Linked DNA regions of Homo sapiens. The protein of the gene in region 1 purifies or fractionates together with the protein of each later gene. This does not show direct contact. Each region holds a gene or a part of one and is shown in the gene's direction. Other genes may lie near its edges. The genes, in order: USP45, TMOD3 and SRBD1.

The links.
Region 2: the proteins of USP45 (region 1) and TMOD3 purify together in Homo sapiens (affinity purification with mass spectrometry; one large-scale study listed by BioGRID and IntAct). This does not show direct contact.
Region 3: the proteins of USP45 (region 1) and SRBD1 purify together in Homo sapiens (affinity purification with mass spectrometry; one large-scale study listed by BioGRID and IntAct). This does not show direct contact.

What each region holds. Positions count from the first base shown.
Region 1 is NC_000006.12:99,505,334-99,508,987, reverse strand, and holds part of USP45 (ubiquitin carboxyl-terminal hydrolase 45), read left to right. Parts: intron 1-205; coding exon 206-378; intron 379-1,456; coding exon 1,457-1,560; intron 1,561-3,654. UniProt on the Homo sapiens protein: Catalyzes the deubiquitination of SPDL1. Plays a role in the repair of UV-induced DNA damage via deubiquitination of ERCC1, promoting its recruitment to DNA damage sites. May be involved in the maintenance of photoreceptor function.
Region 2 is NC_000015.10:51,899,116-51,902,769, forward strand, and holds part of TMOD3 (tropomodulin-3), read left to right. Parts: intron 1-1,039; coding exon 1,040-1,183; intron 1,184-2,776; coding exon 2,777-2,921; intron 2,922-3,654. UniProt on the Homo sapiens protein: Blocks the elongation and depolymerization of the actin filaments at the pointed end. The Tmod/TM complex contributes to the formation of the short actin protofilament, which in turn defines the geometry of the membrane skeleton.
Region 3 is NC_000002.12:45,601,214-45,604,867, reverse strand, and holds part of SRBD1 (S1 RNA-binding domain-containing protein 1), read left to right. Parts: intron 1-2,784; coding exon 2,785-2,965; intron 2,966-3,654.

The sequences.
Region 1 (3,654 bases):
ATGAATCTCTTCTCATTCTATAATTATGTTATTTCATGAACATTATATAAATGGAATTATATAGCATATATCTTTTGAGTTATTTTGTGTGTTCAATCTCTGTGCTTTTTAGTTAACAGCATTTAATACTTTTGAGGTTTGCTCAGTAATGGTAGCACTTTGGTGTAGCAAAGAAAATGTTGAGATTTTGTTTTATCTTATTCAGTAGGTTTAACTTGCCAACATGTAAGTCATGCTATCAGCGTGAATCATGTAAAGAGAGCAATAGCTGAGAATCTGTGGTCAGTTTGCTCAGAATGTTTAAAAGAAAGAAGATTCTATGATGGGCAGCTAGTACTTACTTCTGATATTTGGTTGTGCCTCAAGTGTGGCTTCCAGGTAAGAAAAGTATTATTTATATGTGAGTTTGTCTGAAATGTTTTCCTTAAATGCTTATTGTGAGTTGGACTGTTGGTCATGCATAGGAGTTAAGATAAATTTATTCCAATTTAGATAGAAATTTTCCAGGAATGAACTTAAAAATGATTGTTAAGGTAAAGTAAAAGGTATGCTATGTTCAGAAAGTAATCAGGTGTGGTTTATAAATACTTGCAGAGGTAATTCAACCTATTTGCAGTAGTTCCCATATCTGGACCAGTCTTTACCTTTTGTATTTACTTAGGAAATGGATCTACCTTTCAGATTAATTTTTTTCTCTCTCAAAACAGATTATTCTGCTGCTTTTGCAAAGTAATTTAAAATCTTAAAGTTTAAAAGTTATTGATATCTGTAATAAAGGAATTTTTTTAATGAAATTAAAAGTATATACTTTTTTAAAAAAATAAGAGAAATCTTTATTATTTCACACAAAATGTCCAGAAGTAAGGCCACTTCAGGATTAGTTAATTTAATGGAAAGAACATTAAAAACTGAGGTTTATTCTGTTTTCTGCTGTGCCATCCTCAACCTCATGGTTGTGTTCCTCTTAAAAAACAAACAAAAAAAAAGCCTTCTGGAAAGATTCAGCGGATTTGACTTCCCCTCATGTTGCATTAACCAGAATTGCATCTCATTTCTTTACTTACCTAGTGAGGGAAATCGCTATGATTGGTCTGTGTCTCAGTAGTTCTCAGTAGGCTGGGGTGAAGTTGTGTACGGGATTGGGAAATGTGTGTTTGCAGAAGGGCACCACTGGCCTGCCAGGATGCTGGGTGTTCCACAGTGTGCACATTTTTAAATGATAGGGAAATTAACTTTGCCCATGATTGTTTTAGGTAAATACTGTATATTGAGCATGTTAGCCTGTTGGCAAGAAATTAAATTTAATGAGAATCCATATTACTTTTTTGAAACTTTCTCCTCTGGCCTGAAATTAAAAACAAAACTTTTCAGTATAAGTGTGAGTATAATTTAAGTTTTGATTAATTTGAAACAAACATTTGTAAGTCATACAAAATAAAATTCTGTTCATCTTCAGGGATGTGGTAAAAACTCAGAAAGCCAACATTCATTGAAGCACTTTAAGAGTTCCAGAACAGAGCCCCATTGTATTATAATTAATCTGAGCACATGGATTATATGGTAAGTTAAATTTTGTTAGTTCTTGTGTCCACTAACCACAGCCCCCCAATTTTTTTTTTTCTTTAAGCTTTTAAGGTAAAATATTTAAAGATGTTCTATCAGCTTATGGTTTTTTAACCTGAACACAATCTATGGGATACTTCAAGAAAATTAATATTACCTGTGAATATAAAATTTAAATTGGAAAAATTTTAACTATCTCTCTACTTTTTGTTGTTGTTGAGACAGAGTCTCACTCTGTCGCCAAGGCTGGAGTGCAGTGGCGTGATCTCAGCTCCCTGCAATCTCTGCCTCGTGGGTTGAAGCAATTCTCCTGCCTCAGCCTCCTGAGTAGCTGGGACCACAGGCGCATGCCGCCATGCCTGCCTAATTTTATGTATTTTAGTAGAGACAGGGTTTCACCATGTTGCCCAGGCTGGTCTTTGAACTCCTGAGCTCAGGCAATATGCCCTCCTTGGCCTCCCCAAGTGCTAGGATTACAGGCGTGAGCCACTGCGCCCAGCCTTTCTACTTTTCTCTATCATTTTCCTTGTATAATGTAAAGAAAAATTCTTTTTAGTTGATTTTTTTGGTAGTGAACTTGCTAATACAGAATTCTAGTGTTGTAGAGAAGGAAGATACTTCAAGCAGTCAGGTCATTTTCTGAAGGGAGAGGGAAGAGCTGGGCATAAGTAGCTTGTAAAAACTTTTCAGGTCATTCTGCTGTTTAATCCTGGTTGAGAATCTAGTCCAGTTTCCTATGTTACCTGTAAGGAAACTATGTAATATTTACCTTTTTGTGGTTATGAAGTAAAAATCCAGGTACTAAAACAAGTTTTTTGTGGGGCGTGATGGCTCACACCTGTAATTCCAGCACTTAGGGAGGCTGAGGTGGGCGGATCACTTGAGGTCAGCAGTTTGAGACCAGCCTGGCCAATATGGTGAAACCCCGTCTCTACGAAAGATACAAAAATTAGCTGGGCATGGTGGCGCACGCCTGTAGTCCCAGCTGCTCAGGAGGTTGAGGCAGGAGAATCGCTTGAACCTGGGAGATGGAGGTTGCCACTGCACTCCAGCCTGGGTGATAGAGTGACACTCCGTTTCAAAAAAACCAAAAACAAGTTTTTTTATTTTCTAGTTTCTTATTAGCATATCACACTGTTTTGGTAGTATAAATGGACACTATGTTGAAATGCTTCCTCTGTGTTTTACAATAATTTTCCAACTTGAATCTATGGACTCCTAAGGGTTCCTTGAATGAATTTTCAGGAGTCTCAGATTTTCTTTAACATAAAAATATTTTGTCTAAAATTAATATAAGGGTATTTTGGCTCACAGAAGAGGTCATCATCTTTAATACAGCCAGAAGGGTTGGGCACCAGCTGCATTTGTGTTTTTATTTGTTGTTGTGAGTCCCAAGTAGTAGTACTGGGGAGAATGACGAAAGAACAGAGGGAACTTAATATATAAATGATGCATTGGAACCAATGGAGACAGCAATGGTGCCATAGTGTGGCAGTTCAATAAGGATTTCACTTTAGTGGTCTCAAACTCTAGGTGCATCAGAATCTCAGGGAGATCTTGTTATGACAGATTGCAGGATCCCAGTCTTAGAAATTCTAATTTAGTAGTTCTGGGGTGGAGGAGCCAGAGAATTTGCATTTAACAAGCTCCCAAGTGTTGCCAGTGCTGCTGGTCTGTAGACCACAGTTTAAGAATTACTGAATTAGAAAAAGGTGGGTAAGAAGATTGTGAACATGTAATGTAGCATTGGTGTAATGCATTATGTTTTTTTTTTTTTTTTTTTTGAGATGGAATCTCACTCTGTCACCCAGGCTGGAGTGCAGTGGCGTGATCTCGGCTCACTGCAACCTCTGCCTCCTGGGCTGGGAGTAGCTGGAATTACAGGTGCCCGCCACCACGCCCTGCTAATTTTTGTATTTTTAGTAGAGTTGGTATTTCACCATATTGGCCAGGCCAGTCTCGAACTCCCAACCTCAAGTGATCCTCCCGCCTTGGCCTCCCAAACTGCTGGGATTACAGTTGTGAGCCACTACACCCGGCCATAATGCATTACATTTATAAAACACTTTGAACACTTTCCAACACATGTTC
Region 2 (3,654 bases), on another chromosome or scaffold:
CATTTCTTTTGGCCCCTGCCTTGGAAATTAGTACATAATTTACCCTCATTTTGGCTTCACATGATCCAGCTACAGCAAGACCCAAATAAGAAAAGATGTTACAGCGACATTGATGAAGTTGGTCTAACACAGAAACTGAAAGAGTGAGAGAGACAGAAGAAAGAAGCATGAAGTAGGGAATGAGGAGTAGAGAATGTCACCAACGGGGAATTACATGTGACCAAAAAATCAAAAGATTATGACTGGGTACATATGAAAAATAGGTACAGGCCAGGTGTAGTGGCTCACACCTGTAATCCCAGCACTTGGGGAAGCCGAGGTGGGTGGATTGCTTGAGCCCAGGAGTTTGAGACCAGCCTGGGCAACATGGTGAAACCCCATCTCTACAAAAAATACAAAAATTAGCCGGGCATGGTGGCACACAACTGTAGTCTCAGCTACTCAGGAAGCTGAGGTGGGAAGATCAATTGAGCCCAGGAGGCAGAGGTTGCAGTGAGCTGTGATCCTGCCACTGCACTCCAGCCTGGGTGACAGGGCAAGACCCTGTCTCAAAAAAAAAAAAAAGAAAGAAAAGTAGATACAGTCATCCATGGGTTCAACCAACTTCAGATCAAAAATATTTGGAAAAAAATTCTATGAATTTCCAAAAGCAAAATCTGAATTTGCTGTATGCCAGGTACTATGTTGAATCCACAAAAATGAAGTGATGTGTAGGCATTGTATTAGGTATATTAAGTAACCTAGAGGTAATGAAAAGTATACAGGAGCATGTGTGAAGGTTATATGCAAATACTATGCCATTTTCTATAAGGCACTTGAGCATCTGAAGATTTTGGTATCTGCAGATGGTCCTGGAACCAACCCCCAACAAATACTGAGGGACAACTGTACATGTGAGAGCTATGGGCTACTGTGTCAAACTGAAACAACTAATGACAAACATTAAGGCAGTTAATTAATGTATTTATTTATGGCATGTACAATATGTAGTAGGTACTGTATCAAATTTTAATCTCTTAATATTTTCTCTAATTTCTAGGCTTTTGCAGAAATGCTGAAAGTGAACAAAACTTTGAAGAGCTTAAATGTGGAGTCCAACTTTATCACGGGAGTTGGGATTCTGGCACTGATTGATGCGTTAAGAGATAATGAAACCCTGGCAGAGCTCAAGATTGACAATCAGGTCAATGTTCTACAATAATAACGTCGAGGAAGCTACAGCCCACGCTGCTGTGTAGGGCTTGGCGACTCAGGATGGGGATGGGAGGCGGGCTGTCAGGGATCCCTGTTGGAAGATGCTGGGCTGAAAGGAGAGCTGACATTTGGGGTATCTAGAATATTAACTCAGTGTATATAACAGTGTATACAATGTAAAGGTGTATACTCTCCCTAGATCATTTTAAGAGAATTTAGATGGCTATCTAGTTTGAACTGAGAGGACTCTTACATGTGACCTAGTCCACCTTCCAATTTTTCAGCTCTGTGCTGGCAAGGTCCACATTGTAGGGTTTTTGTAAAAGGCAGAGAGATACATGTTAGAAATGTTTCCATCCAGAGTAGCTATTAATTTTTTTATTTGAAAAAATAACTCCATTTATTTGAAAAAATATTTGTTAAATGTCTCCTTCAGTCCTTCAAAGTAAATACATTTTGTAAACTATGAAGGTGGAAAAGAGGATTATGTCTTAAAATTTAACCCAGTGCTTCATAATCCATGTTTTTCATTTTTTTATTGAGATATAATTACATACAGTAAAATTCATTTTCTTAAAGTATACAGCTAAATGGTTTTTAGTATATTTGTAGAGTTTTGCAGCCATTACCACTAATTCCAGAACATTTTCATTACCCCAAAAAGAAACCCCATACCCATTAGCAGTCACTCCCCATTCACCCCTCTCACCAGGCTCTGGCAATCACTCATCCACTTTCTGTTTCTTAGGATTTGCCTATTCTGGACAGCTTATATCTGTGGAATCAAACAATATTTGATCTTTTTGTGCCTGGCTTCTTTCACCTGGCATAATGTTCTGGAGGTTCATCTGTATTGTAGCATACATCAGGACCTCATTCTTTTATGACTGAATAATATTCTATTCCATTTGGGGTGTGTCCACATACGGGCCACTAGAAATAATGCTGCTGTGAACATTCATTACAAACTCTAACATGGACATAGATTTTCATTTCTCTTCAGTATATAGCTAGGAGTGTATTGCTGGGTCACATGGTAACTCTATGTTTAACTTTTTGAGCAGCAGCCAGTTTTCCACAGTAGCTGTACCATTTTACATTCCTCTCAGCAATGTCCCCATTTTTCCACATTCTTGCCAACACTTGTTATTATCTATCTTTTTTATTATACTTATCCTAGTGGGTATGAAGTGATATGTCATTATAGTAATTCACACTTTTTTGATGTCTATATGATCATATTACTGAACTTTAAAAAGTTTAGTGTGTGTGTGTGTGTGTGTGTGTGTGTGTGTGTGTGTGTATAAAGTTCCAGTGAGGCTGTGGTGATGATTGGGTCAATGGGTAAAATCCCCTTCCTGTGACAAACATTTCATAGCTTTAAGTGACCAGTTTTCTACAACAAACAATTTGTTCTCAGTTACAAATCAGTACTTGGAACTACTGAACTATGTATATGTTGTAGGAATTGGGAACATTTAAAGAGATCAAAGAATTAGCATGTGCCTGAATGTCTTAATTTACCTTGAAAAGTATTTTGATCTAGTTTATTAATATTGTTCTTTTTTTCTAATTACTCCAGAGGCAGCAGTTGGGGACAGCTGTAGAATTGGAAATGGCCAAGATGCTTGAGGAAAATACAAATATCCTTAAATTTGGATATCAGTTTACACAGCAGGGACCACGAACCAGAGCAGCTAATGCTATAACAAAAAACAATGACTTAGGTAAGACATAGTATCGATCAAGTTTCTGAGTTCTATCACAAGCTAACGTATTGGGGGAACTTCTTTCCCTCTTAAGAATAAATTCTAACAGAGAAGTTATTTGGCCTTTGTTTCTAAAATCTGCATGGTCCTTTATATACTGATTGAATTCAAGTTCAATTAAAGTGAGGTTGTGATGATTGGGTCAATGGGTAAAATCAGCTTCCTGTGACAAGCGTATTTCATAGTTTTAAGTGACCAGTTTTCTACAACAAACAATTTGTTCTCAGTTACAGATCAGTCCTTGGAACTATTGAAACAAAGATTTCAACATTATCGGAAAGTTTTTTGCCCTTTTAATCAAGCGGACCCAGATAGAAATTCAATTTTATATGATAGAATGTGGATATAGAAATATATAAAATAGAGAATAATTATATTTCTCACCCAGGTTTTTTGTTGTTGATTTTTTTTGAGACGGAGCCTCGCTGTGTTGCGAGGCAGGAGTGCAGTGGCGCCATCTCGGCACACTGCAACCTCCGCCTCCCAGGTTCAAGTGATTCTCCTCCCTCAGCCTCCCGAGTAGCTGGGACTACAGGCGTGCGCGCCGTGCCCAGCTAATTTTTGTATTTTTTTTTTTTTTTTTTTTTTTGAGACAGAGTCTTGCTCTGTCGCCCAGGCTGGAGTGCAGTGGCACGATCTCGGCTCACTGCAAGCTCCGCCTCCCAGGTTCACGCCATTCTCCTGCCTCAGC
Region 3 (3,654 bases), on another chromosome or scaffold:
TTAGGTGCTCTGAAGATATTTGTTAAGTAAATGACTGGTAATATTTATAGTAATAAGTACTATAAAGAAAAATAAAACAGGGCAGGGGATAGAGAGCATAGTGAGTGGTTGCAGTCGGGGGGCATTTTGGATAGAGTAGTCAGAAAGTTATTGCGGAAGATGTGGCAAGAGATCTAGATGAGATTTGGGGGTGCAGCTTGCAAAGATCTTGGGGATGGGTGTTCCAAATAGAGAAAGCAGCAAGTGCAAAGACCCTGAGGCAGGAATAAGTTTGGTGTGTTCAGGGAACAGCAAGAAGACCAGTGTGGCCAGTCTAGAGACATGAGGCAGAGAGTAGTAAGAAATGAGATTGTAATGAGTAGGATCTGGATCTAATAGGCTTAGATCCTTCTCCTTAGTCCCTTTAACTTCTCTTCTCACCACCCTCTAAATGTTGGAATCCCTCAAGGCTTAATTCTAAGCCCTCCCCTTCCTCCACCCCCCTTCCCCTCTCCCCTCCCTGTTAGTAGCTGATCTTGTCTTATGGCTCAATATAAAAATCTCAATTTTATACAGTATCTCCAACTTGATCTTCCCTGGTATTAGAATTTTATTTGAAGTGGGTTGGGAGGCCACTGGAAGGTTTTGGGTTGGGATGTTACATGACCTGGGTTTATATTTGTAAAATATTCTGGTTTCTTGGTGGAGAATAGACTATAGCGGGCAAAACTGGAAGTAGGGGAAATGAGTTAAGGAGATTATTGTAGAAGCATAGGATTCTAGATGTGAAAGTGATGAGAAATGGTCTAATTTGGGATATATTTTGAAGGTAGAGTGGACAGGACATGGTGGTGGATTGGATTTGGGGTATGAAAGAATGACAGACATTTTGGAAAGACTGGAAGAGGAACAGGTGTGAGAGTGGTGGAATCGGGAATTCAGTTTTGGACTTGGTAAGTTTGATGTGATTGCTGGACATTCAGGTGAAAGTGGATATACAAGTCTTGAGCTCAAGCGGGGAAGGTCGAGTTGGAGATACTATATAAAATTGAGATTCCCAGCTGGGTGTGGTGGCTCACACCTGTAATCCCAGTGCTTTGGGAGGCCACGTCGGGCTGATCACTTGAGGCCAGGAGTCCGGAGTCTAGCCTGGCCATCATAGTGAAACCCGGCTCTACTAAAAATACAAAAATTAGCCAGGCATGGTGGCACGTGCCTATAATCCCAGCTACCTGGGGGACTGAGACGTGAGAATCACTTGAACCCAGGAGGTGGAGGTTGCAGTGAACCGAGATCACGTCACTGCACTCCAGCCTGTGTGACAGAGGGAGACTCTGTCTCTAAATAAATAAATAAAAATAAAATATAGATTCCTGTATCGAGAAAATACAAGATTACCTGGCAAGAGAGCATAGAGGGCTGAGGACTAAGCCTCGAGGGATTCCAGCATTTAGAGGTTAGGGAGAAGAGGAGTCAAAGGGGCTAAAGAGAAGCTGCCAGGAAGTAGTATGAAAACCAAGGGCTGGGGTTCCTGTATGTAAGGGATATGCTCTAAGGGGTGAGTGCCAGATGCTCCTGAGAGCTCAAGTGATTGGGAAGGAGAGTTGACTAGCTGCCTTAGAACTATATCATGTATAACACAACGGTATCTGTGCTTGTGTTTTGTTCATAATAACTAAAGGGCCTTTAATCTTGGTGATATTCCTTTGTGAAATAGGGTTAGTCAGTAATCCTGGTTGATAGGTGATGAGACTAAGGAGGGAAGAAGTCATCCTGCTCAGTTTGATGATAGTATGAGGAGTGGAACCCTAGTTTTCTATTTCATTGGTTTTCTAATTATAGTTTCTTTCAGTTCCACTGCTGTTATGTTATTCTGATTATTCCTGTTTTTTGTTTGATTGTTTGTTTTTCCTTACCAGGCTTAGTGGTACCTCTGAAGAGAACACCAGTAGTTTGACCTATCATAATTATTCTCTTCTAGAGCATAATTTAGCTAAGAAGTCATCCAGTCAGGTTTTTGCCCCCAGCAAGAACTTAACATTAAAAAACCCAGACTTCCCTATTCACTCATCTCAGTAAAGGAAGTCTCACTAATATTGACCTTTTACATTAGAGTAGAAATGGAATTAACTGGGTTGGCAGGAGCATGATGGTCCTTTAAAAGAGTTCCCATGGCTGCTTTTTCTCTGCTCTTGCTGTGAGTTTGATTCTTCGTTGTTAGAAAAGTACTATAGTCGCACCTGATCCAATCTAATCAGGAAAGAAATCCATTCTGTGAAAGGAAAAAAGGGTTAATTAAAGCAGTTGGAAGGGTCTTGGTGCTGGCTTTTAATGTAATTTAGTGTGTTTCCTAGAGCCATTTCTCAATCCTTTCATTGATTTGAATAACTTAATACAATTTAAATGAATTTGATTAGTAGTTGGGAACTTATTTAAGTGCTTTTCACTGTTAAAATTGAAAAGCTCACATTGACTATAGTTTGACATGACCCAGTAAATTACTTAAGGTAATAAATGATTTTCTATGTCTTGAATGAATGTGTGTATGTGTTTGTCAGTTAGGTGAGAAGAGAATGGAGAGACAGAGCTGTGATTTACAGCATACTGCGGTATTTTTATACTGGTCCGTCATCAACTCTGTTGGTTCAATTCTTAGCAATAACTGTTCACAGCCTGTACTCAATCACTCCATTTTATATTAAACACCTCCTACTTTATCATTTTTTCAAGAATCTTGCATCTCTTTTTTACCTTTGACATTTGCTTTTATTTTTCCTGGAGATTATTCTGTTGATTTACTTCTAGATCATCTGCCTCTGAAGAAGATGACAAGGAAGATAGTGCCTGGGAGCCCCAAAAGAAAGTTCCCAGAAGCCGTAAACAGCCCCCTCCCAAGGAATCCAAACCAAAGAGGATGCCTCGGGTGAAGAAGAATGCCCCACAGATCAGTGATGGCTCAGAAGTCGTTGTTGTTAAGGAGGAGCTGGTAGGTGCTACAGCTGGATAGAGGGAACTCTGTAGTGTCTTCCTGATTGGTGATGTTATTTTCTTATTCTACAGAGTAGGACAAGGCATGTAAATGACAAAAACTGCCAGCAATGGCATCCCCTACCCTGGGTCTTAATTTTTGGGTCTGTACTGTGTTTCTTTGTCTATTCCCTTTTCCCTCTCCTAGGAGTTGGTCTGGGTGTGGTAGTGCTGGTAATGATGGTGGCATTAGCAAATAGTTGAGTGCTTACCATTAGCCAGGCAATGTGCTCAACATTTCATTTAAATGATCTTAATCTTTATAACAACCATTGAGGCAAGTGCTTTTATGCTGATTTTATAGATGAGAAAGCTGAAGAAAGATGTTAAGTGACTTGCTCACGGTGTACAGATAGTAAGTGATGGAACTGGGTTTCTAAGTTAGGAACATGATTTTGTCAACATTTTGGGAACAGATATATCTCTCTTGGGTGTTTTTACATCAGTTGTGTTCACAAGAGAGATAAATACAACCAGAGTGCTGGTTTAATATTTAATAGTTTAAAATAATAATCTTAAGGACTTGAAATTCTTATGGCCAGCATTTCGTTCTCCTTGGAGCCTAATCTGAATAGGGAATTAAGTAGTAATCAGAAATTTACTTGATGAGCATGGACTCAGAATAGGATGATGAGATAAATCCATTCG